4 linked regions of the Homo sapiens genome follow. The main gene of each other region encodes a partner of the protein of the gene in region 2 in a complex. Each region holds a gene or a part of one and is shown on either strand. Other genes may lie near its edges.

Evidence for each region.
Region 1: EPC1 (region 2) and BRD8 share a complex: the UniProt entries of both Homo sapiens proteins name them as parts of the nuA4-related complex.
Region 3: EPC1 (region 2) and RUVBL1 share a complex: the UniProt entries of both Homo sapiens proteins name them as parts of the nuA4-related complex.
Region 4: EPC1 (region 2) and MORF4L1 share a complex: the UniProt entries of both Homo sapiens proteins name them as parts of the nuA4 histone acetyltransferase complex.

Annotation. Positions count from the first base shown.
Region 1 is NC_000005.10:138,168,619-138,175,649, forward strand, and holds part of BRD8 (bromodomain-containing protein 8), read right to left. Parts: intron 3,517-7,031; coding exon 3,447-3,516; intron 2,793-3,446; coding exon 2,743-2,792; intron 2,543-2,742; coding exon 2,420-2,542; intron 2,295-2,419; coding exon 2,214-2,294; intron 1,792-2,213; coding exon 1,727-1,791; intron 741-1,726; coding exon 604-740; intron 71-603; coding exon of another isoform or gene 1-70. UniProt on the Homo sapiens protein: May act as a coactivator during transcriptional activation by hormone-activated nuclear receptors (NR). Isoform 2 stimulates transcriptional activation by AR/DHTR, ESR1/NR3A1, RXRA/NR2B1 and THRB/ERBA2.
Region 2 is NC_000010.11:32,281,144-32,288,174, forward strand, and holds part of EPC1 (enhancer of polycomb homolog 1), read right to left. Parts: intron 6,132-7,031; coding exon 5,955-6,131; intron 5,873-5,954; coding exon 5,783-5,872; intron 5,700-5,782; coding exon 5,551-5,699; intron 3,908-5,550; coding exon 3,555-3,907; coding exon of another isoform or gene 3,442-3,554; exon of another isoform or gene 2,978-3,441; intron 1-2,977. UniProt on the Homo sapiens protein: Component of the NuA4 histone acetyltransferase (HAT) complex, a multiprotein complex involved in transcriptional activation of select genes principally by acetylation of nucleosomal histones H4 and H2A.
Region 3 is NC_000003.12:128,080,279-128,085,812, forward strand, and holds the end of RUVBL1 (ruvB-like 1), read right to left. Parts: intron 2,297-5,534; coding exon 2,205-2,296; intron 1,132-2,204; coding exon 972-1,131; 3' UTR 532-971; downstream 1-531. UniProt on the Homo sapiens protein: Possesses single-stranded DNA-stimulated ATPase and ATP-dependent DNA helicase (3' to 5') activity; hexamerization is thought to be critical for ATP hydrolysis and adjacent subunits in the ring-like structure contribute to the ATPase activity.
Region 4 is NC_000015.10:78,875,863-78,882,893, forward strand, and holds part of MORF4L1 (mortality factor 4-like protein 1), read left to right. Parts: intron 1-2,350; coding exon 2,351-2,397; intron 2,398-4,649; coding exon 4,650-4,717; intron 4,718-7,031. UniProt on the Homo sapiens protein: Component of the NuA4 histone acetyltransferase (HAT) complex which is involved in transcriptional activation of select genes principally by acetylation of nucleosomal histones H4 and H2A.

The sequences.
Region 1 (7,031 bases), on a different chromosome or scaffold from region 2:
CTGGAGGAAGGGTGTCAGGAATCCCAGGAAACGAGGTGACTGGGGTACTCGGCAAAGTCCCGGGGGTTACCTAAGAGACAACAGAGAACCTTTATCTGACTTCTCAAACTATGGAAGGTTCCCTACTAATCTGTATGGGTTAGTGTGTCTAACTATTATTTTATTAGTCCTGAGTGGAATTGCCCAGAAACCCTCTATCCCTCCTGCTCTTAGCCATACTTTTCTTCCCCACAATCTTCTCTTTCATCCACTCAAACCCACAGTGACTCAACCATCCCACCCAACCTGCCTTTTATGAACTCCTTACCCACTACCAATATTACATTTACAAGGATTTTGTCCCTTATTTCAGCAGGAATTTCATAAGACTAGTATGAAACAATTTCTTAAAATAGTTTTTTACCTATCTCTCAAAAAGGTCAAAAGCCTCAATGCTTTTAGGTCCGTTCTTATCTCAGAGCACAGAACATGGTAAATTAAGTCTTTAGCATTCAGATCAAGAGAGGAAGTTGCCTCTAGGCCAAAAGTGGTTTCCTCATCGCTCAGCTCTGCCGGCTTATTGCCCCTTCACTGATCAATTCCCACAGATGGAAATATACTCACCCCAGAGGTAGCCTCTTCCATAGTGGTTGGAGTCAAGTCCCCAAGTGGATAATCACCTCCTGGGGAGGCAGAATCTATAGGAGAGCGAACCATCACAGTGGGTAACCTCCGGGGGGGTGTTTTTACTGCTTGACGAGCTAGAACATAAAAGAGAACAATGTCCAAATCTTCAAGATTAAATAAATGAAACTTGACACTAGTCTGCTATTATACAATAAAGGACAAATAGGTATGTTGCATTACTAAAGCAGCATAATAAGTTTGGATTAGAAAGCTTTAACACTTCTAGAGATGGATAACTTTTTAGCCTAATTTTTCCTAAGGGCAATTCTCACACTAAGAAACTCCTTTAACAATCTCAAACTACTTAATTATCCCAAAGGTCCTTGGAGTGGGAAAGTAGTTTAAACATCCTTTAATATTCTCTTTAGCAACTTACTAATATTCTGCTTTTAAGAACAGGAAGGCCAGGTGCAGTGGCTCACGGCTGTAATCCCAGCACTTTGGGAGGCCAAGGCAGGTGGATCACCTGAGGTCAGGAGTTTGAGACCAGCCTGCGAAACCCCATCTCTACTAAAAATACAAAAATTAGCTAGGTGTGGTGGCAGCCGCCTGTAATGCCAGCTACTCGGGAGGCTGAGGCAGGAGAATCACTTGAACCCGCGAGGCGGAGGTTGCAGTGACCCAAGATCGCGCCACTGCACTCCAGCCTGTGCAGCAAGAGCAAAACTCCGCCTGGGGGAAAAACAAAAAACAAAAACAGGGAAAGACCTCACTGGCGCACAGCATGTATTCCTAGAGTTGTAAATGCTTAAATTTCTCCTCATCTAATGACTGAGCTATTCTCAATCTTTTCACAGGCCCTTGACTTCTAAAACATTATGTTCAATATCTCATCAAGCCTTTGTGTCCTGAAGTTAATTTAAGGTCTAGTGAGATCTGAGCACAACGCATGTTCTAGGAGTTTCTTCTTAAGACATTAAGGGATGTTTTTATTCTGGTAGAAGAGAAAACTGCAAGTAAATTTAAATCAATGTATTCTATGTTACAAAACAGTCCAACTGTCATTAGCATGCAGTACTGTGCAATCAATTGCTAAAGAGGCATACTAGGTTCAGCTTACCCTGGTATGCAGCATCTGTAGCCTTCCTCTTTACTTCAGCCTCCTCTTCTTCCAATTTCTTTTTCCTAAACAGGGAATTAAGGGTTAGATGCTAGACAGCTCTGGCTCCTCCCCAGAGTTCACAGAACCCTTACAAAGTAATTTTTTTTGCCAGGCCAGCACTTTCTGGAAGAAAGGCCTAAACAGGAATTCTAACCAGCAAAACAGTGAATTGGGGTATACTGCCTAACTCCCAGTTCTTCACCCAGGCAAACTATAGCCACTCTTAAGTTAGAACTAAGTTATGTTTTCATACTGAAATGTCCCATTATATTACCTTCTAGGACTCACTCCCCCCTCCCAGCCACCAAACCACTTTGCAGCTTTCCCCTTCCAGAATCTGTCTCAAGTCTAAAGGGACGGCAATTGGAGGAAATAAGCCAGATTACTTGAGGGGAAAAGAGGGTAAAAAGAAAGAAGCACAGAAGAACAATATAATATAACCCACGTTGCAATGTCATTGCAAAGCTCATCCAGTCTGCTGTCCATGTGTCCAGCTTGAATTAGTTCTGCATCTCTCTTTAGCCGTCTATAGGAAGAAAGAGAGGTAGGTAGACTGGGTTTTTTAATCTGCTATTTTAAAAGTTCTGACCAGTACCAGAAGACAGTCCCTTATGTCTTTCTCAATTTTTTGGCATTCTCTCTGATAAGTACCTATATCTCTCCTGGGTTTCCTTTATCACTTTCTTTAGTTCTTCAACTCGCTCAGCAGTCAATTTCCGAACAATAACATCTTCAACAGTTTCCACCACTTCTCCCTTTTCACCTCGTTTCCGTCTGTGGAAAATTGAAAAAAAAAAATTCATATTCAAATAACATAACATTTATCCCCTCTCCTACTTGCTTTTACCACTTAATCATAGATAACTTCTGCTATTTTTTAATCATCCAGTATCATAACTAAGTATAAACCAGAATTCCTCAGTAAATACTCTCCACTAAAGAAATATGGCTGAAGTACCTGGCTTTGTACTCACTTTGGTGTCTCAGTGGTCTCTAAAAGCTCCGAGTACTGGGAAGCACAATGCTATTAAAAAAAAAAAAAAAAGTGAAAATGTGATGAGCAAGGCTGGAAAGAAATGACCTTTCAAAGTTTCAAGAGATTAGAGTAAGATTTAGAGAAGAGAACTATATGTAAGACGGGAGTGGTTTACTAGGAGGGCAAGTAACTTTATAATCAAATCAGTTCAAAATAATCAAAACAAGACACAGAAAAAGACAGTCTTATGGACTGGAGTTTGTGCATTTGCGGAAAGGCAACCTAACTGCCAATATTTATAGCTAATATCTACCAAGTAGTTACTACATGCAAGGCACTGTGTTAAATGTTTTACATGTATTACTTCAATTAGCTTCACAACAATCCTGAAGCAACTCTTTTATCTCTATTTTACAAATGAAAAAACAGAGGATCATGGCCCAAAGTTTTTAGATGGAGTAATAATGAACCCAGATCTAATTCCCAAGCTTGGGCTCTTAACTGTTATGCAACACCAATAAGAAAGGTCTAATATGATCATACATGGATGGATTAGCAAACAGTAGGAAAAAGAAAAAGGTATTCTCAACTATTTTCCCACATCATGGTATAAAAGCTTTGTAACTAAAAGTCAGGGCCTGGTAGAGAACCTACTTTACAACCCAAAGACTGCTCTAAAAGAGCCCTTGCTTGGGAACTTACTTTTTGAGAGAACCAGTCTGGAGGGCGGCCAGGTTCTGCAAAGGGCTTGATTGCTCTGCTAACTGATACCCTACAAAATGAGGAAAGCTTTATTACACACCAAGCAGAAAACAATAGGAGAGGTATGCTGAGAGTGCAAGGCTTGGAGTTCAAACTTTGGAATAAAAAAGATGCGAATGGCCAGGCGCGGTGGCTCACGCCTGTAATCCCAGCACTTTGGGAGGCCAAGACGGGTGGATCACAAGGTCAGGAGATCAATACCAACCTGGCCAACATGGTGAAACCCCGTCTCTACTAAAAATACAAAAATTAGTTGGGCATGGTGGCATGCACCTGTAGTCCCAGCTACTCGGGAGGCTGAGGCAGGAGAATCTCTTGAACACAGGAGGCGGAGGTCACAGTGGGCCGAGATCTCACCACCGCACTCCAGCCTGGGGACAGAGTGAGACTCCATCTCAAAAAAAAAAAAAAAAAAAAAAAAAGCCAATGAATGCGAGGTGTGCAATGGACCGTGCCTGTAATCCCAGCACTCTGGGAGGCAGAGGTGGGAGGACAGCTCAAGCCCAGGAGTTCAAGCCACCCGAGGAGATCCCATCCCTACAAAAAAAAAAAAAAAAAAAAAAAAAAAAAATCGACAAGGTATGGTGGTGCGTACCTGCGGCCTGTGGTCCCAGCTACTTGGGCAGCTGAGGTAGGAGGATCCCTTGAGCCCAGGAAGTCAAGAGGCTGCAGTGAGCCCAAATCGCGCCACTGCACTCCAGCCTGGGTGACAGAGTAAGACCACCCCCTCCGCCATTCAAAAAAAAAAGAACAGCATATATAGTATATAATCATTTGTGTTAGAAAATGAGGGGGATGAAGGGGAAAAAGAAAATATTTGCTCACATAAAATTTTGCTGGAGAGACACAAGAAACTGCTAACACTAGTAGACGGGGGATAGTAACGGGAGGAAGACACTGCATATAATTTTGAATCTTATGACTTAGTATCTGCTGATAAAATAATAAAATTTAAAACTTTTACTCAAGTATTCTTATACTATTTTTCTATGGCTGGGCGTGGTGACTCACGCCTGTAATCCCAACACTTCGGGAGGTCGAGGAGGGCAGACTGCTTGAGATGAGGAGTTTGAGACCAGCCTGGCCAATGTGGTGAAACCCCACCTCTACTAAAAATACAAAAATTAGCCAGGCATGGTGGCGTGCACCTTTAATCCCAGCTACTCGGGAGGCTGAGCCAGGACAATCACTTAAATCCAGGAGGTGGAGGTTGCAGTGAGCCGAGATCGTGCCACTGCATTCCAACCTGGGTGACACAGTGAGACTCCATCTCAAAAAAAAAAAAAGATTCTTAACACTATTTATCTAATAAAAATGTGAGGAAATATACAGATTAGATTCTATTTCAAACCAGTTTACCTGTTTTGTTTAAAAATGAGCTCAATTTATATACATATACAAATATATGTGATGTGTATACACACACACACACACACATACAAAACACACATTGTTTTTGTTTAGACAGTATCTCACTTTGTCACCCAGACTTCAGTGCAGTGGCACAATCATGGCTTGCTGTTGCTTCCACCTCTGAGGCTTAGGCAACCTCCCACTGCAGCCCCACCCAAGTAGCTGAAATCACAGATGCACCATCATGCCTGGCTAATTTTCTTTTTTGTAGGGAACAGTTTCTCTTATGTTGCCTCCCTGGCTCAAGCCATCCTCACACCTCAGCCTCCCGAGTAGCTGGAACTATAGGCACACACCACCAGACCTGGCTAGTATTTTTGTGTTTTTTTATAGTTTTGTCATATTGCCCAGACTGGTCTCCAATTCATGATCTCAAGCAACCTCCTGCCTTGGCCTCCCAAAGTTCTGGGATTATAGATGTGAGCCATTGCACCCAGCCCCATTCTATTCTCTAGTTCTGTGAGGTCTATAATTTTTCCTAGATTCCACATATAACTGAGATCATATGGTATTTCTTTATGTGTCTGGCTTATTTCACTTTACATACTATCCTCCAGGCTCAACCATGGAATCACAAATGGAGGATTTAATTCTTTTTTATGGCTCAACAGTATTCCATTGTGTGTGTGTGTGTGTGTGTGTGTATACATATATATTTTTTCTTTACCCATTCATCTGTTAATGGATACTATAATAATTACCTTAATTGTGGATAGTTTCACAAATGTATATATATTTCAAAAATACCATGTCTTATGCTCTAAATGTGTGCACTGGCCGGGTGTCGTAGCTCATGCCTGTAATCCCGGCACTTTGGGAGGCCGAGGCAGGTGGATCATCTGAGGTCAGGAGTTCAAGACCAGCCTGGCCAACATGGTAAAACCCTATCTCTACCAAAAAATACAAAAATTAGCCAGGCATGGTGGCAAAGGCCTGTAGTCCCAGCTACACGGGAGGCTGAGGTGGGAGAATCACTTGAACCTGGGAAGCAGAGGTTCCAGTGAGCCAAGATTGCACCACTGCACTCCAGCCTGCGCAACAGAGACTCCATCTCAAAAAAAAAAAAAAGGTGCAGTTTACTGCACATCAATTATATCACAAAAAAGTTGTTAAAAGGGAAGAGATGTGACTTTTCTTACCAACCCCCTTCCTTCTTGTTGCATGGAACAAGGATGTGATAGCTGAAGGTCAAGCAGCCACCGTGAACCATAAGATAACCAGAAGATAAACTATGCACTGAGGAAGGTGGAACAGAAAGAGAATATCCTGAGCCTCTAATGTCACTGTGAAGTTGCTATGAGAGCTGTGGACTGCCTAGACTTCCTGTATGTGTGACAAAAAATAAACTCAAGTTTTTTTTTTTTTTTTTTGAGATGGCGTCTTGCTCTGTTGCCCAGGCTGGAGTGCAGTGGCACGATCTCAAATCACTGCAAGCCCCGCCTCCTGGGTTCACACCATTCTCCTGCCTCAGCCTCCTGAGTAGCTGGGACTACAGGCGCACGCCGCCACACCTGATTTTTGTATTTTTAGTAGAGACGGGGTTTCACCGTGTTAGCCAGGATGGTCTCAATCTCCTGACCTTGTGATCCGCCCACCTCGGCCTCCCAAAGTGCTGGGATTACAGGCGTGAGCCACTGCGCCCGGCCTTAAACTTAAGTTTTTAACCCATTTCTTTGTTGCTATTGCTTTCTATATAGTGTTTTTGTTTTTATGGTGGCCACATATTACTTCAAAAATTAGATTTAAAAAACAAACAAAAAAAATGCTAGGAAGCATGACAATCAGCAAAGTACTGAATTGTTTATAAATGTGGCAAGAGAGTTAAATTCATAATGGATGATTCAAAAGAAAGGGGGTGAGGGGCTGATACCGAGAAAGGTAAAATGATGATAGTTCTAGGCTGGGAGTGATGGCTCACGCCTATAATCCTAGCACTTTAGGAGGCTAAGGTGGGAGGATCACTTGAGCCCAGGAGTTCAAGACCAGCCTGGGCAACAAGTGACAAAAAACACAAAAAATTAGTCAAGCATGGTGGCAAGGGTCTGTATTCCCAACTACTCAGGATGCTAAACTGGGAGGATCACTTGAGGCCAAGAGTTGGAGACCAGCCTG
Region 2 (7,031 bases):
CCTGCCTCAGCCTCCCGAGTAGCAGGAATTACAGGCACCCACCACCACGTCTGGCTAATTTTTGTATTTTTAATAGAAACGTGTTTTGCCATGTTGGCCAGGCTGGTCTTGAACTCCTGATCTGAGGTGATCTCAGGCAATCTGCCTGCCTCGGCCTCCCAAAGTGCTGGGATTACAGGCATGACCCACTGTGCCTGGCCTGACTCTTCTGTTTTAATTAGCCCAACACTGCCAGTTTTTCTGCTGGCATCAGACTACATCAGAGTTTCTTTGGTTAAGTGCCAGAGGAAGTAGTCTGGTTTGTATGTGGGGGCCATGCTGTATGAAAATTAAAAATTATCTTTAAAATCACAATTACTACTGAATGAGGTAAGATGCTTAACCTATGAATAAAGTGGCAATGCGGGCACTCACGCCGTAAGAGGACCAACACATTCAACTTCCCCTACTCCAGGCTCACTCTGGAGAATATATTCTTTCAGTAAATTGTATTTAGAATTCTGTATAACATTTGAGCTGCTACATTTTCTCTTTTTTTTTTTTGAGATGGAGTCTCACTCTGTCGCCCAGGCTGGAATGCAATGGCACAATCTCGGCTCACTGCAACCTCTGACTCCCAGGTTCAAGCCATTCTCCCTGCCTCAGCTTCCTGAGTAGCTGGGATTACAGGCGCCTGCCATCATGCCCAGCTAATTTTTGTATTTTTTAGTAGAGACCAGGTTTCGCCATATTAGCCAGGCTAGTGTGGAACTCCTGACCTCAGGTGATCTGCCCGCCTCGGCCTCCCAAAGTACTGGGATTACAGGCATGAGCCACCACACTTGGCCTAAATTTTGTTTTTTTTTTCTTCAGGGGCCTGGAGTTGGATTAAGTGAAATGCACTTATGATATGGCTGCATTGTAATATACTTTATAAAGTATGCAGAGAAAAGCTTTAGGTCTCTGGAATATTCACAAATATAAATGAACAGTGTTACCCTACAGTAGTCTGTAGGTATCTATCCTCTAAGTATTAGAAGATCTAGCAAAATTTAAGGAGAAATTGAAAATAATTAAGACAACAGGAAAAAAAATAGATAAACTCATTTTTAAAAAGTAGTATTGAGGCTGGGTGCAGTGGCTCACCCCTGTAACCCTAGCACTTTGGGAGGCCAAGGCAGGAGGATCACTTGAGGCCAGGAGTTCAAGACTAGCCTGGGCAACATAGACCCTATCTCTTACAAAAAATTAGCCAGTCATGGTGGCATACGCCTGCAGTCCTAGCTACCCAGGAGGCTGAGGTTGGGGGATCACTGAGCCTGGGAAGTTGAGGCTGCAGTGAGCCATGACTGTGCCACTATACTCCAGTCTGGGTGACAGAGAAAGATCCTGTCTTAAATAAATAAATAAATAGTTGTATCGCATATATGGAGGAAAGAAATGATAAAGAAGAAAAATTACAAGGTTACTAATGATTTCTTTTCAGCTAAGCTTTTGGTAATGCTCATCTTTTAATGTTCTTTGGGCAAACACAAATCAAACAATTTTTACAACTGTTATTAATATGCCTAAAGCAGTATAGCAAAACATTTTTCATAAAAAAAGAGCATTATAAAATCCTTAAATATTTAGGATAGTTATACACTTCAACTTCTCTATTTAAGGGGTGGAGAAGATGGAGATTGATGGAACATGCCTATTTTCTGAGAAGTCTTAAAGAATTTTTACAGCTTAGAAAGCTTAATTATCAGGGTAACCTATGACAGGTTTATACTGTTAAAACCTCTATACTAACACTATAAGTAAGTCTTTATTGAAAAGTTCTTTATTTTGATTCTTAAGACTATAAAAGTAGAGAGAAACTGGCTTTTGGTGATAAAGACAGTAACATTAATGGGATTATAAATAAGCTGTTAGTCCCTAAAATAGCTTTATCTTCCAGCTGATTTCTGAATTGTGATTATTTTTCTCATGAGCTGAAAGACTTCCATTTCATAGAAGTACAGCTGACCCTTGAATAACATGGGTTTGAACTGCCTGGGTCTACTTATTTGTAAATTATCTTCTGCCTCTGTCACCTCTCAGATGACAAGACCAACCCCTCCTCCCCCTCAATGTGAAGATGACAAGGATAAAGACCTTTATGATGATCCACTTACACTTAATGATTAGTAAATGTATTTTCTCTCCTTTATGAATTTCTTTTTTTTTTGAAACAGGGTTTTGCTTTGCTGTGAAGCCTGGAATGCAGTGGCATGATCTTGGCTCACTGCAGCCTTGACCTTCTGGGCTCCTACCACCTCAGTCTCCTGAGTAGCTGAGACTACAGGCGCTCACCACCACACCCAGTGAATTTCTGCATTTTTTGTAGAGATGAGGTTTCACCATGTTGCCCAGGCTGGTCCTGAACTCCTGGGCTCAAGCAATCTGCCCACTTTAGCCTCCCAAAGTGCTGGGATTACAGGCATGAGCCACCATGCCTGGCTCTATAAATTTCTTAATAACATGTTCTTTTTCCTAGCTTATTTTAAGAATGAAGTACAGAATACATATAACATACAAAACATGTATGTTTGGACTGTTTATGTTAATGGACTAATGGACTGTTTATGTTATTGGTAATTCTGGTCAGGAGCAGACTATTAGTCAAGTTTTTGGGGAGTCAAAAGTTATACATGAATTTTGGACTGCAATTGGGGGGTGCCCCTAACCCTCATGTTGTTCAGGGGTCAACTGTACTTTTTTTTAACCACCAAGTAAATTAGTTTACGGAACATTTTCTGGAGGTCTTTAAGAATCAGAGCAAATGTTCATATTTATGAAGCAACTTAACTATAACCCTACAGGGTGAATTAGGGGAATGATAAATATCTTCATAGTCCTCAGATTACCTTTACAAAAATCAGTAGTAACATAATTCAATGGTGAATTTCTACAATATATAGGCTTCAAATAACACAAACTTATGCTTTAAAACAGACAGCTAAGATTATAGGAATATTTTAAATAAACAGCATTTATTTTAGACACATTTCAAATAGAAGCCACAATAATCAAATAGATATTATCTGAAAACGTTTCAAAAATATTAACCCTTTAAATGTTCTTCTCTGAAAAATTAGTTTATCTTTAACAAATTATTCTGAATTATTGTGTCAACATATAAGGTTATGCATATATATTCACTTGCTGGTCTCTATGTTAAAGCAAACTAGGTAAAAACTAGAGAAATATCTGAACATAAAATGGTTAACAATTTACGGCCCATTTTCTTCTCATATTATTGAAAAATATGATAAATCTTGTGGTTCACGGACTATATCCAGGAAACAAATGTCACATATTAAATAGAAATAAACCATCTTTGTATGCAGGTATGTTTAAATGAAGACACACACATACAAACTCCTATAGCAACAGGATTCAAATAAATACTTAGACCAAGATTTTTTTTTTAACTGTTTAAGAGAAAAGGACTTTAAGCCATAAATGTAACAGACCACATAGTCGAACAAATGGGAAATGGTTGGACCTGACATTTCTATAGAAACGTACATCATTAACAGTCAACATACCAAAGTGTGCTGAACCACTGCTACTTTTACTTTGCGTAGAGGTACTGCATGTCTGGGTCCCAGGTTGTGCTGTTCCTGTTCGGTTTATACTCCTATATAATTTTCTACAGGAGAGTTCATCATTGTCACTGTCATGTAGGGATGGTGTCCGAGGCCTAAAATGCCGCCATCTACATGATTTGATATTGACTAGTATCTGACTGAGGTCTTTAGAGAAAGATTTGTCCGAGGTATTTGTTTCTGAGGTATTGGCAAACTGATTGACTGGAGAATGTTGTGGTGAGGAAAGCATTTCCAAATCCAGATGGTGAAACACACTGTCATAGTCTGAATGAGCTCTGTCCAGTAAGACCCTATTAAAAAATCAGACAAGAAACAGTTATTTAAAATAGCTATTCAAAGATTATATATTAAAGCTTTTTCTTTTTACCCCCAACTGCCAAAAGGCCAACTCATACTGAATATTTAAAAGCTTTAAAGTTGATTATTTTAGTGTTTGGTTTTTATAGGCTACAACCTCAATTTCTAATAAAAGTTCTTTTAACAAATTGTTTTTCAACTAAAGATTTTCACTTCCATTACAAAGCACCAAAATGAATGCTTTATAAAATGTTGCGAACACATTTATTCTATATTTAAGCAAAAACTTCATTCCTTTTGGGGGGAAAGGGAGAAGAGAGAAGAAAAGCAACAAAAAACATAGTATACCATTAACATTTCTTATAGACAAAATATTTGAGATCCACTACTCTAGAGGATATATTCTTATGTTATTGATTGATTGACTGATTGATTGAGAGAGATGGAGTTTTACTCTGTCACCCAGACTGGAGTGCAATGGTGCGATCTTGGCTCACTGCAACCTCCGCCCCAGGGTTCAAGTGATTCTCCTGCCTCAGCCTCCCGAGTAGCTGAGATTACAGGCGCCTGCCACCATGCCCAGCTAATTTTTGTGTTTTTAGTGGAGACAGTGTTTCCCCATGTTGGCCAGGCTGGTCTCAAACTCTTGACCTCAAGTGATCCACCCACCTTGGCCTCCCAAAGTGCTGGGATTACAGGTGTGAGCCACCATGCCTGGCCTCTTATGTTATTTATATAAACATTATAAATGGCTCCAAGTCAAAATAATAACATTGATTAATGTTAGTAATAGAATAAAATATAGCTAACGTAGAGAATTTTCACTGCTCCTGATGTCAGCAGTGATGGAAAAAAACGGACTAAATAAAATGTATTTTAGTGCCTAGATAATTCTTAACCAATGTTTAAATAATAAAAAAAAACCCTCTGCAATTAAGAGTTGAAGATGAAAAAAATATATGTATAAGCCATTAGTTTATCATAAATATACGCTTGGGTTTCTTCCTGAAAAAGCACCTTGATACTATTATTTGCTTTCCCTTTTAATTTTCCCCGCACATTATACATTAACGTCTCTCCATTCCTTGAGTTTATGTGTTTTGCTATTTGTTTCCTGTCCCCATACAAGCAACTCGCATAAAGGCATTTAGAGTATGAAGGAAGGAATTCTACAAGGTTTAAACAAAGGAAGAACAATTAGATCCTAACAAACTGGGATGTCAAGATCAGGTTATGCATGGATCCTTTTCACTGTCAGGTTAAACCCATTATACTAGCTAGTGTGAAACAACTTTTTTGCAGTTTCTTTAACTTAATACACTGTGTGCAATCAGGATTTACACTTGTCTTCATCTGTTGCCCTTTCTCACAATTCTACCCCTTGATAATTTATCTGAGGTTTTCCACCTTGGGGAGAAAAGCAGGTCCACTAGGGACCCAATAGAGTTATGTCAAAAACTATGGATGTGTAAGAACCAGGCAGCACAGCAACAAAAATATTTTAGTCAACAGATCAGTTAAGAATAGCAAATAGGAACTAATGAGTTGTTCAGAGGGATTACCTGACTTTAAAAGTTAGATTCAATCACCCTAATGCCTAAAATATCCTTCTGCTAGGAATACAGAAATACCTTACCTTCCACCGCGCCCAACCCGTCTTCGTGCAAATCCAATACACCTTTGGGGTACGGTGAGAGTAGTTAAGCAGTATCTATATCGCACATCCCCTAATCCTCCATCTTTAGGACTAGTCCAAGGCCAGTTGCCAGTTTGGTCTAAGTGAGGCTTAAAAAAAAAAATCCAAATTATTTAATTTTGTCAGTTAAAGGTAAATAGTTTGTTATTTACAAAGACACTCTGAAACTTACAGCATAGTACTGACAGCCTGCTTTCCTACGGAAAGCAAAAGGACCATCAGGATCATTGTCTTCCTCAGCTTCCGAAGAGCCAGACAAAACCTTTAAATGAAATAAAGAAAGTAGGTCAGATACGTGACTTCCTACATCCCTCCTCAATGTTCATAGAGAATTGTATTTGTACCTGGGAGAGAGGTTCTTCGTCTGAGCTGGGAAAGTCATACTGATTCAGATCTTTAGCATTGAAGACTGGCAGTGCAGCAGGACTCGTCTGTTGGGGAGTAGCAGCGGCAGACGATGGTAAGACTTTGGGCTTCTTTTCATATTTCCGTTTCGGTCGGATAAGATCGGCTTTATCTTGCTGCAACAAAGACATGAATTAATTATACACCAGAAACCATGTTCAACAAATTTGCAGTTTTGGGGGAAATTTTAAAAAGAAGTTTATTGCTATAATGAGGGCATTCATATTCATAAGAGACACAACACTCTATGTTTGGCCATCTTATAGTGTAAAGTCTAGAGAAGTTGGCCTCCATGAAAGCATAAATTTGTCCTACAATCTAAACATAATCACACAAATGATTCTGTTTCAATTAAAAGGAGAGAACAGAAGTTCTCCAACTTCTGAAGTCTTACAACTGCAATTAGTGTATTTACTGCTGGCTCCTCCCATTTTCTTAATTTTCTATGAAAATTCTAGAAGAGAATTTTTTTTTAAAGGGGATTGTCTAATCCTTATTCTCAACAAATAATAAATATAGGACAAATAATAATGAAAATGTCTTCGTATACACAGAAAGCAAACTACAGAAAACTGTTAACATAGTAGAAAACAAAGCCATAATGCTGAGTGAGGGGTTATACAAATAAAGAGTAGTAAGGATTTGTGGGCTGAACAATGTAAGCTTTCTGAAATGGTGACTTTTGAACAGTTTTAAAGGATAAAGATATGAAATCATTAAATAGGGGAAATGCAGGATAAAATATACAGGCAACAGTAACTGAGCTGATGGAACACAGCATGTTCGAAACATGTATTGCAGATGATGGCAAAGGTTGGGAGAAGTATGAATTTGATACGTAGGCAATAGGTAAGGTAAAGTAGTGGCAAAAATTGTATTTGTTGGAAAGAAAAAGATCACGGCAAATACCACGGTTATGTAAATACGCTAAATATTCATGTTACATTTTATGTAGTTTATGACATTATGGTTTTTTGGGAAAACTACGGTTTTCCCAAACCATAAGGCATCTCTCC
Region 3 (5,534 bases), on a different chromosome or scaffold from region 2:
CCATTCTGATACAATCTTCCATGCAGAATCCCAAATAATTTTGGTAAATACTCAGTTCTCTAGAGGTGAGCATAACCCCTGCCACTTAAGTGTGGGCTGCATATAGTGACTTCCTTCCAAAGAATTCAGTATGGAAAGGCAGCAGAGAGTAACTTTACAGTGAGAAGACCCGACAAACATGACCTCAGCCAAAGGGTCAAGCTCACCATCAACGATGAGTCATGTTGCTAGCATGTGATGAGAACCACACATGATACGATGTGATCAGAACCACATTTCACCTCTAGTCTTCCTCTCCATAACCCACAATCCCAGTCTACTCATGAGAAAAGCATCAGACAAACCCCAACTGAGGGATGTTCTACAGATACCTGATCAGTCCTCCTCAAAACTGTCAGGGTCATCAAGAACAAGGAAAATCTAAGAAGATGTCACAGCCAAGAGGCATCTAAGGAGACATGACAACTAGTTGTAATGGGTTATCCTGGATGGGATCCTGGGACAGAAAAAGGACATTAGGTAAAACTGAGAAAATGTGAACGCAGTAGAATAATGCATCAGTATTGGTCATTCACGGTGACAAATGTGCTATCTGATGTAACACGTTAACAAGAAGGGAAACTGGGTACAAGATACATGGGAACTCCCTATTGTATGTTCACAATGACTCTGTACATCTAAAACTGTTCTGAAAAGTTTATTTTTAAAAAACTTAGAGAGAGAGAGAGAGAGAATCAAAATAACCTATGAAGATTTATAGAAAACACACCAGGTAAGGAAGGGTTCTTTCAAAGCAACCACAGGAACAGTTACGATAACTTAAAAAGAAATGCTTTCCACACTGAACTGACAGCGCTGCAGACCACGCCTGAGTGGGGACGGCAGCCCCAAGCCCAGGGGCAAGCGCCCACAGGCTGGACCCAGGCCAGGCACACCTGGGGAGTCTCTTACTGCTGAAAACCTCAGCCATCTCACTTCATGTACTTATCCTGCTGGTCAGCCAGGATTTTGGCGGAGGACTTGGCATCATAGAAAAGTTCACTGATCTCTTCGACATGCTCTTTCTCAATGCTGTCCTTCCCGTTGATTTTAGCAAGCAAGTTGGCCGGGGTCAGCAGCTGCACTGAGTACCTAGAGTGGACAGGGGCCAGGGCTGGAGTGAAACTGGGGCCACCGAAGAAAGCACCTTCCCCCCACATCAGTAGGCAGCACTGGCACCAGGAGCAGAGCCCAGTGCTGGGCTTGTGCCAGCTGCTACGAACACAGAAAAGGGGAGACAAAGTTGTCACTTCTCAGAGAGCTGCAGTCATTATCCCATCAGAGAGGGTCCAGGAGCCACCAAGAAGACATAAGTGCTATTCCCCAAATCTTTAGTACAGTCTACAAATCCTCCAGTAGGAAGTAATGTCACTGCTACTGGAAAAGGACTGCAAACTTATATGTATACAGGTGTCCGACAGATAGGGATATTTAACATGGCAGGGAAATGAAAACATAGCCAGCTGGAAGTACATGCCCATCCAAAGGCATGAAGACTCTGCCGTTTTAAAAAGTACCCCTTCATCCAAACCTCACAGCTTGCATTTCTGCCTTCAACCTCAGGAGCAAGAACTGACTCAAGGGATGTAGGGAAGGGCTGAGGACTGTGAAGCAATGATTTTACAATGAGTCAGGCCACTGTGAAGGGACATGCTCTGCCGGTCCTGTGTTTGAGCCGCTGGAGAACAATTAGGAGAACTGTCTATGTCTGCGCTCCTCCCTGGCTCTCCATATCCACCACCCAGACATTTTTTATTTGCTTGATGGTTAAATAAATCAAAAAAGTTAAAGATTTACCAGGCCTCATAACACCACCGGGAGAACAGGAGCCAGGGCCCTGGCTAATGAGCTACCACATGGTCCCTGCTCTCTAGTTCTGTGCATCTTCTCTGCCACAAGAAGGCCCAGGGTCAAAGCACTCTCCACCAGAGGGGAGCATCTGCTGCAGGACATGGGGACTTCACCCTTACTCTAGCTTGTTAAAAACCATCAGATAGATCCTCTGCATTTGAAACTCAAGTGCCCTGGCACCCATCGCGCCAGGAAGAGCGGATGGATAGAGTCCCATGCCCTAGGAAGGGACCTGCCTTTATTGTCCAGAATGACCCCAGCGAGGGCCCTGGCTGTGCTGGGGAGGCCCCGGCGGGCCCAGGGTACCAGCTCACCTCAGTGTGGTCTTGGTGCCAATCTCCCCCAGGTGGTTCAGTGCCTCCTCACTGATGTTGATTCCTTCCGTCTGGGCACGGATTTTAATGATCTTTTAAAGGATAAAAAACATGATCAACGGTGACTGACCTCAAGTGCCCCATTTCTAAAGTGCTTTAAAGACAATGTTGCTCAGATTTCTCACTGTGCAGCATAAGAGAAACTGAGACCTGGGTTGGTGGGCAGGGAGCCAACGCCTGCCCAGCACTGCCGGCCCGGCACCCTCCAGGAGGCATGTGCGGCCCTGCAGTATGCATGAATAGCATCACGGCCAGTGTGCTGTATTCAACTGACTCAAGTGTGGCTGGTGCCCAAGGAGGTATGCAGCTTCCCAAGTGGCTCACTCTTGCCTCCATGTCCTCCCGTCCCCTGTCCCCAGGCAGAGAACTGGGGCCTCTTCTAACCTACCCGGGGCTCCTGCAAGGGCTCTAACCTTCCTCTCCAGCATGGGCACTACTGCCTACAAGCACTCAGGCAAGAAGGGACATTTTTTATTTGCTTGATAAATATGATGGTTAAATAAATCAAAACAGTTACTTTTAAAGATTTACCAGGCCTCATAACATCACCGGGAGATATCTAATCTATCAAGAAGAGGCTGACGCTTGTTGCAGTTTGAAGATCTTGGTAGAGTTGGAGGGGAGGCAGGCTGGCGGCGGGGATGCTGTAACACGGTGGACCAGGATCCTGCAGGCGTACCAGCACTGAGTGATAAGGGGCAGCCAGGATAATGATGTTGTGTGTTGTGGAGCTGAGATAACTGCAGGACTTCGAGCCGCATATAATACAGGAATTTTTCACTTTGGCAGCTTCGTAAACAAGATATCAAGAAGCCCTTGTTGAAATTAAAGCCATAAAAGCACACCCAGTGTAGAGGCACAGGAGCTGGGAAAGACTGAGTCCCAGCTTCAGCCTTCCAGGAGGGAGGAGAGCCAGAGGTTTACTGAGGTGGCCACATCAAGCCTCGCCTGTCAGCTCTCCAGGCTGGGACCCTGCGGGCAGGAGCTGCAGGGGGAGCCCAGTCTCTGATGATCGCGGTTGGGCTTGGGGGACAGCACATTGGCTGCCCACAGATGGGAAAGGCCTTGGAAAGCCCCAGCAGGACAGAGCGGCTGCGATGAGCCAGGTGAGGGTGAAATGCTTGGCCAGCAAACACCCTGGGGAGGCAGCCCCTCCACCCGCGGCCACCACTGCTGCAAGGTGTTGTCTGCAGTCTTCCCTTTTCTCAAGACAGGCTCAGAACTCAGATCCTTGTACGAAACGTCCTGATTTTGGCAGGACACAATGGCTCACGCCTGTAATCCCAGCACTTTGGGAGGCGGAGGCAGGTGGATCACCTGAGGTCTGGAGTTTAAGACCAGCCTGACCAACATGGCGAAACCCCATCTCTACTAAAAAGACAAAAATTAGGTGGGTGTGGTGGCACATGCCTGTAATCCCAGCTACTCAGGAGGCTGAGGCAGGAGAATTGCTTGAACCCGGGAGGCGGAGGTTGCAGTGAGCTGAGATTGGGCCGTTGCACTCCAGCCTGGGCAACAAGAGAGAAACTCCATCTCAAAAAAAGAAAGAAAGAAAGAAATGTCCTGATGTCTAGATGTCAGCAACTTGTTCAAACATTTCACAAACACTGCATAGGCCACATGAAACGTATCTGCTGGGCTCATGGGTGAACTGCCAGGGTGTGAGCTCCACTGAAACAATCTTAGCTTATGCAGGAGGGGCTTCACTGTCTGAAATCCAAAGCTAAATGCAGCTGGGCAAAAAGGGGCCCTCTGAAGTTACTGGATGGTACAAGGACAACCAAGAAAAGGAGCTGGGAGGGACTCACAACAGAACTCCCCCCTGAACACAGCTTCAAGGTAAAAACGGCTTCTCACTCACAGCTGGGACTGAGGAAACCACCAGGTCTTGCCAAGAAAAATGTCCCCAGATGACCTTCTGAAACTCCAGGGAGATGTAAATATTGAATCCTGGAGCCTGGTCATAGGAGACAGCTTAAGCTAAGTGCCTCGCCTTCAGTGAGATGCACTGAATCTGTGGCTCAGCTTCCAGAATGTCAGGGACACTCTGCTCTCTCTCTCTCACTAGAGAGAGCAGCAGGTCAGAGCAATCGTGAAAGCGTCTGTCTCAGGCTGCTCGAAAATGGACAGTTCATAAATGAGATCTTTAATCATTTAATAACCTGCAGGGATAGTTTATGAGGGTGTCGGCTTGGATTGCAGAGTACACAAGTTACATTGAGTTTGTTTAAAAACCTAGCCCCAGGCTCCAGTAAAAATGCTGAGGTTATCGCCTGGGCCAGCGGGAACAAAGCCACGAGTCCTGAGAGAAAGCCTGAGGAGAGGCCCTCCTGACAGAGCCAAGACAGCCCCAGCCCAGAGTTGGCCTGGCAAGTCACTGTCCTAGAAGCACAGTACAGAACATTCCAGACTGTTTGGGCCAGGAGCTCTGGGTTCGAATGGCGGCAGCAAGGGTGAACTAGCTCTGAGTGGCAGTCCTGGCTCTGCTGCTTACTCTCCACATAGCCACAGGACCCTCGTTCTTGGAGCCTCCAACACTGGCTATTGCGAAGCTGTTGTATGTTGTACGTAGAGGACCCTAGAGGGTACCTATGAAGCACACAAAGCTATGAATACAGTAATAACAACAGCAATGGGAAGGATGGGAGGGCCCGTTATTGCCAATACCTCACAAATCCTAATGACAATCTTGCAAAGGAGGGAGGAGATGTTCCATTTAACAGAGAAGGTGAAGGCTCGGTGAGATGCACCAAATTGCTCAAGTCATTCAGTAGGCAAATGGTGTCTCTGGCCCTGAACACATCTGTGCTGGGCTGCCTTTTTTGGCAGGACACATGGGGTTTTGGACCCAACAGTAAGGTGCTATGTCCCGCAGTAAGAATGGGCCAGTTTTCCAAGAATTGCCTGGGACTGTTTCTGCTTCTGCCTCCGTTCAGTGAATGCCTTGGCTTCAACCTGGCAGTCACCCTTGCAAGTCACCTGGCAAGACACCCTTACGTGGCGATGAGGCCCCCGGCCATTGACACCATCTCCTAGGTAACATATACAATTGCTACTATGAACCATAACTGCTTCAGTAATTTGCCAATGCTGGTTACAAAGGGAGATCTGTGACTCTCCTGATGCATCCCCACAGCACTCCTGCATGCGGTAAGAGATGCTGGCAGGCCCAGGCTGGGCCTCCAGCCACAGGAGAGCAGCAGAAGTGCCAGGAAAGGCCCAGGAGAGGCCCTGACTGCTCCAAAGGAAAGGTCCTGCTCACAAACTGCC
Region 4 (7,031 bases), on a different chromosome or scaffold from region 2:
AGAATCGTCTTGAAACACTGTAGAGTTTATGTAATGGTAGAGAAAAGAGTGGCGAGAAGTAGTGTTTTTTTGTTTTGTTTTGTTTTTTTCTTTTTGAGACAGTCTTGCTCTGTCGCCCAGGCTGGAGTCCAGTGGCGCGATCTCGGGTCACTGCAGCCTCCGCCTCCTGGGTTCAAGCGATTCACCTGCCTCAGCCTCCTGAGTAGCTGGGATTATAGGCACGCGCCACCACGCCCAGCTAATTTTTGTATTTTTAGTAGAGACGGGGTTTCACCATGTTGGCCAGGATGGTCTCGATCTCCTGACCTCGTGATCCGCCTACTTCGCCGTCGCAAAGTTCTGGGATTACAGGTGCGAGCCACCGCGCCCGGCCGAGAAATAGGGTTTTTAATGATTCTTGTAAACTTGTTAAAAAAAAAACAACTCGTAAACTTATAAAAAAGTTTTTTTTTATTTGATAATGGCGTGCAATATATGTTGTATAAGCAATTCTTAAGGCATAGTGATTGCTTTGCACTGGACTTGGTTTTCCATTGGAAATTCTTTTTTGTTTTGTTTTGTTTAGATTTTGAGACGGAGCATTTGCTGTCCTGGGTCATACTCCTCAGCTAGCTGTATATTTTTTCAACAAAATACTAGGGCCTCGTAGCTAGAATGGAGGTCACAGGGCCTCGGTTTCAGTGCACTTTTTTTTCCGGCAGTAGCAGCCAAGGGGAGAAAAATGGTAGGCCATTTTCAGAGTGCCTTTAAAATGTACCAGGAGAGTGAAATTAGGAAACACAGATCTGATCTGATCTTGTTCGCTGTTTATTAGCAGTATAGTTTACCCATTTTAGTTCTCGTTCCTGGGCCGTTGGAGAAGTCTTTGATCTTCCCGTTTTCCAGTCTCCGTCTTTAATTCAGAAATGCTATTCGTAGGTCCAGCAGCCTCTAGCAGTGATTCTTTATAGAGTGACCACTTAAAAGAATTATAGAACTGATTTAAAAATAAAGTTAATAGGTCGTGCTCTGGGAGAGTCTAATAATATGGGTCTTTGGTGGGGCTTGAAAATACATAGTTTTAAAAAATATTTTAAATTTTAGTGGTTTTTTTTTGAGGCGGAGTCTTGCTCTCCCATCCGGGCTGGAGTGCAGTGGTGTGATCTCTGCTCACTGCGACCTCCAGCTCCTGGGTTCAAGCGATTCTCATGTCTCAGCCTCCCGAGTAGCTGGTAGCTGGGACTGAAGGTGCACATCACCACGCCCGGCTGATTTTTTTTTTTTTTTTTTTTTTTTTTTGAGAGGGCGGCTCCTTCTCACCCAGGCTGGAGTGCGGTGACAAGATCTTAGCTCACTGCAACCTCCACCTCCCGGGTTCAAGCGATTCTCGTGCCTCAGCCTCCCGAATAGCTGGGATTACAGGCACACACCACCATGCCTGGCTGATTTTTGTATTTTTAGAAGAGACAGGGTTTCGCCTGTTGGCCAGGCTGGTCTCAAACTCCTGACCTCAGGTGATCCAGCCACCTCGGCCTCCCTAAGTGATGGGATTACAGGCGTGAGCCACCTCGCCCCGCCTGCTCTTTTAATTTTAGAGCTAAAAAAGAGCTGACATTCTTGGATATTTCAGTTGTCCATGGGTCTTTTGAAACCAAGTGGACTGAAAATAATGTGTGCAAAATCTTTCAAGCTACACTCAAATGTAATCTGAGGTACTGCCTAGAATTGCTTCCAAGACTTCCAGGTCCTGACATTTTCTTTAGTCTTGAAGTAGGCTCAACGTAGACTGTTACGTTCCAAAGGTTAGGCTTTATTGTCTCATTTCTTTGTTCATTGAAGCAACTTAGCACCTAGAACATCATTCCACATTTGAAGAATGAACATAGTGAGACCCCTTAATCCAGCCAATCTCTGATGCATATTGATATTTTAATTTGTACGATATTTCACTGAGTAAAAGGGTTGGAAGCAGAGATACAAGTGGAGAGTAAAGGTCCTCAACTTAGAAAAACAGATGAGGAAAGCATTTAAAAAACTGTATTTTCAGATATATAGTTAAAACCAACCAACCAACCAACCTCGACAGCTTTGCAGGAGAGTCCGCTTATGTGCTTAACAGGTGATAGATGATTTGATTATTTAAGTAGATTGACCTGCTAATGAATTGTTTTTGTTTTTACCATCGGATACCAACGTGTTTTTGTCGTAGGGTATAGTTGAAGTTTGAGCCAAAGTGGTGCTCTGTATACCCGTCCTCATTTTTCCTAATTTGGCTAGGAATACCTTAATAAAAGTGTGATGACTCTCTAAGATGTTAATCTTTTTATATATGAGAAGAAATTACAATTCAGTACTTTTTCTCCCTTTACAGGTGAGCGAGTGCTGTGCTTTCATGGGCCTCTTCTTTATGAAGCAAAGGTATGAAACTTGTTTTCTTTTGAGAAGTTGGCCAAAACTACTGGTTAGATCTGGCCATTTAATATACAAGTACAGTATTTTGTTGTTGCCTCAGTAAGAGAGTTGCCTTTTTTAGGTTCGTAGTTAATAAATTTCTTCATCTTTCTGAGATTCTTATTGTTTTGCTTAGTGGCTCAAATGAATTAAAACATTGCTACTCTCTTCCACTTTTCTTACTCATCTGGAAGTAGCATTTGAGGGGAATGTTAGAAGGGGAAGATGGGCTGTGGGAACAAAGAGCATTTTGTGGTTAATGACTTGGTGAGAAAACATTGCTGAAGTTACTTTTAAAAGTAATATATGCTGAGTAAGCATTGAGCTAATTATATTAGGTTAAAGGTAAAAGCCAATATTAAAAATAAGTACATTTAACTGTTGATTGTTGATTTGTCTGGCAAAGTTTGTATTCTGGGAGGCCCCCTTTGTATCAGGGTGTGCTCAAGTTATAAAAACTGATTTTACATTTAGCTGAAGGTAAGCAGGAGAATGCATTCCAAAGTAAAAAAAAGTTTCAGTATTTTGTTTCTGATAACTTTTTTAGTACAAATATTTAAGACTTGACTATACCTTAAACAGTCGTAGCTCCAAAAATGAGCCCGTAAAATACAAAACAGTATAATGTTTAATTTATGTAATTTCTGCATAAATTCTTGGTGAGTAGTTTTATGCTATATGTGTCTGAAAATAGCCTTAAAGTGTCAGACATTTCTGACTAAATATTAGCCATTTTCACTACTTTTTTTTTTCCTGTGTTCTAAATACACAGAAGTGTATTTTTAAAGTTCTAAAGAGCCAAACGCGGTGGCACATGCATGTAGTTTCAGCTACTCAGAAGGCTGAGGCTAGAGGATTGCTTGAGCCCAGGAGTTCAAGGCCAGTTTGGGCAACCAAGCGAGACTCTCTCTCTCTTTATTTTTATGCTCCCCGCCCCGCCCCGCCCCCCAAGACAGTATTGCTCTGTCGCCCAGGCTGGAGTGCAGTGGTGCGATCTTGGCTCACTGTGACGTCCCCCTCCCGGGTTGAAGCAATTCTCCTGCCTCAGCCTCCCGAGTAGCTGGGATTACAGGCACCAGCCACCACACCTGGCTAATTTTTGTAGTTTTAGTAGAGACGGGGTTTCACCATGTTGACCAGGCTGGTCTTGAACTCCTGACCTCGTGATCCACCTGCCTCGGCCTCCCAAAGTGTTGGGATTAGAGGTGTGAGCCATTGCCCCTTGGGAGACTGTCTCTTAAAAAAGAAATCCTAAAATGACTGAATTTGGATGTATGGAGATGGTCAGGAATTTCTAAGTATATGTATACGTACATACATCTTAATGATATAATGTTTGTAAGTGCTAAATTACGACTCATGGCCAGGGGCTGTGACGTACAAGCCTGTAATCCCAGGGCTTTGGGGAGCCAAAGCAGGAGGATCACTTGAGGTCAGGAGTTTGAGATCAGTCTGGGCAAGATAGCAAGACTGTCTCTACCAAAAAAAAAAAAAAAAATTATGTCCTGTTAATCGTTTTTATCCCTGAATGTTGTTATTGTTGTATCAACGTTTGGCAAACTCTACTAAACTGGCTGATTTTTCTCCTGGCACCTGACACTCTGGTGAACAATTTTCGAATTGAAGCTATTGAAACAAATTAAACTGTTGTGGTTATTTTGGTTTTCTCTTAAAGACTTTTAAATCCAAAACCAGATAGTCATCACTTGTCATAGTTAATGACTTGCCTCTAGTAATTCCTTTTGTCTGGCTGCTTTTAAGAAAAGTGAAATATTTTTAATTCATTGCTTTACAAGTTGTTTAAACTAACTTTTCAGAAACAGGTCCATTTACTGCCTTTCATAAGCTAATGAAGTTTTTTTATAATATAGTTTAAAGACTTTGCTTTAGAGGAATTTGCTTTTGAAATAAATATAGCTCCTGGCTGATTAGACTGAGAAGACACAAGCATAGCTTTCATTAGCTGTCCTTGGATAGCTTTTGTAATCCATTGATTAAAGATTTAAGGTGACCTTTTATGCTTGTGGTTCTCAGCTTTGTTGGACCTTTTGTGACTAATCTTCAGTTTTGTAACTTGAGTATTCTACAAGCTTAGTGTTCTTAGTCATTCTGTTTAGGCCACCATAAAGCTTGTGTAGAGTGTCTTTGAAGGATGATTTGAAAAGGTAGTGTCTTTAAAAAATTTCTAAGTGAATTATTATTTTTTTTTTGAATTTCAGTGTGTAAAGGTTGCCATAAAGGACAAACAAGTGAAATACTTCATACATTACAGTGGTTGGAATAAAAAGTGAGTATTAGATCTTACAATTCTATTTGTAATTAACAAGATAGCTTGTGTCACTGACTGGCTTAGCAAGCATATGCTTTTCAATTCTGCAGTTTTAATGTAATATAGTACATATTGAAGCAAAGGTGAATCATTTGTAGTATGACAAAACTATTAGAAATTAGGGTACTGAGCCATTTTAATTTAAATATACTTGGATCTTGGGAATATTTGTTATGTTCTAGTGTAATATCTATTAGTCATATAGTCAATCAATTATTCTGGTTGAATGTGGCAATCACATTTTTCTGTTTTTTTTTTTTTCCTGGTTTTGGTACATTTTTAGGATGGCCTGAATTATTTGGCCTTACCACAAACATGTTGATTATATATGTTATTTCAAGCAGCTGTGCTAAAAAAAACTAGTTGGGTTTTCTGTCTAGAAAAGGGGAAAGGATAAAGGTTGCTTGATTGGGAAATAAAGACAGAATTTACCAGTCCATATTCTGAACTTTGGAAACATTATTTAGTGTTGACCGAAAATGACTTCATGTGACTCACTTTTTAGCATGGTTTAACACAGAAACATTCAATTATAGAGTCTTAATTTCTCACCCCTAAGAGTTAAGCCTTTTTTTTTTTTTTTTTTTGAGAGATGGAGTTTTGCTTTCGTTGCCCAGGCTGGAGTGTGCAATGGTGTGAGCTCGGCTCACTGCAACCTCCGCCTCAGGGGTTCAGGTGATTCTCCTGCCTCAGCCTCCTGAGTAGCTGGGATTACAGGCACCTGTCACCATGCCCAGCTAATTTTTTGTATTTTTAGTAGAGACGGAGTTTCACCACATTGGCCAGGCTGTCTTGAACTCTTGACCTCAGGTGATCCACCCGCCTCGGCCTCCCAAAGTGCTGGGATTACAGGTGTGAGCCACTGCCCGGCCTTTTTGTGTGTGTGTGTGTGTATGTAAAGTACCGATGTTATTGATCTTGTTCTAGGAATGGACAGTGGGTATAGATTGAACACATTCTAGAATGTCCATCCAGTGGAGCTGTTTTTCAGTGATGGGACTTTTCTCCTTGGGCCTCACAAATAACCCTGTCTAAAAATTTACCCAAGTCTCCTATTTGGTGATTGTAATGAAAAGACTTGTAATTTTTACTATGGGAGGTTTTACATTTTATTAATGATGCCTTGTCCTTCAAAGATAGCACTGCCATTGCTATTTAGTATTGTTCTTGTGGAATTGTCCTCTAGTAACTTAAGGCTTTGTGTCACCTGACTCAGGCTCTTTTACCTGGTTTACTATGGGATCAGTGCCATCTGATTTGATGAGTATTCTGTTACTATGGAAGGAGTTTATTTTTCCTGTGAAGTTCACTGGCCCTGTGACTTTGGTCTTGTTTCATCTAGTACTCTATCCAGGTGACCAACCCAGTTAATTTTATTTCTTTGTTAGGAAGTTGTTTTCACGTATCAGATGTTTTCAGCTGAGAATTTATCAGACCTTTTACTTCCATTAATATAAATGTGGAAAGGTAGAAATCTGAAATGCATAGAAGTGCATCCTGACAACTTGTGGGTATTTTTTTCCCAGTTAATGATAATTAAAGTATTTCTAATCAGTGAGGTGTGGTGGTGTGCACCTGTAGCTACTTGGAAGGCTGAGGCAGGAGGATTACTTGAGCCCAGGAGTTTGGGGCTGCAGTGAGCTATGATGTGCCACTGCACTCTAGCCTGAGTGACAGAGCAAGATCTGGACTCCTTTAAAAAGAAACAACAACATGTATTTCTAATAATGATAGGTAATATTTAATAATGATAGGTAACTCCAACCTCATGGACTTGTATTTTAAATATTGAGAAGTTGGGAAAATAATGGAGAAAACTGTCTTGGTAGAAGTAAACTGTGCTTTTAGTACTAAATGGATTCTAATATCTAGGAAACAGGAAAATAGTGACTCCTAGTGTATCTCATAGCTTTTTATTACTAAACAATGCCTTGCTAAAACTGCATTTCAATCTTTATTAGACTTATATTTTGTGTGTTGATATTCTGACAATATCCAGATAAAGTTGAGAGTGTTAGGAGAATTTCATTTCTCTACAGGAAAGATAACATCTTAATTTTATGCATACTATGAGTGGGAAAGACCATATAGGATATCAAAAAAAAACACAAAGCAAATTTATGGTTTAGGCTTAATCTCCTCCATCTCCTGCATTTTAAAGGAATTGTTTTAGAGCCAGTATGGTGGTGCCTATAGTTTTAGCTTCTTAGGGAGGCTGAGGTTGAGCCCAGGAGTTTGAGGCCAGCCTGGGCAACATAGGTAGACACCCCTC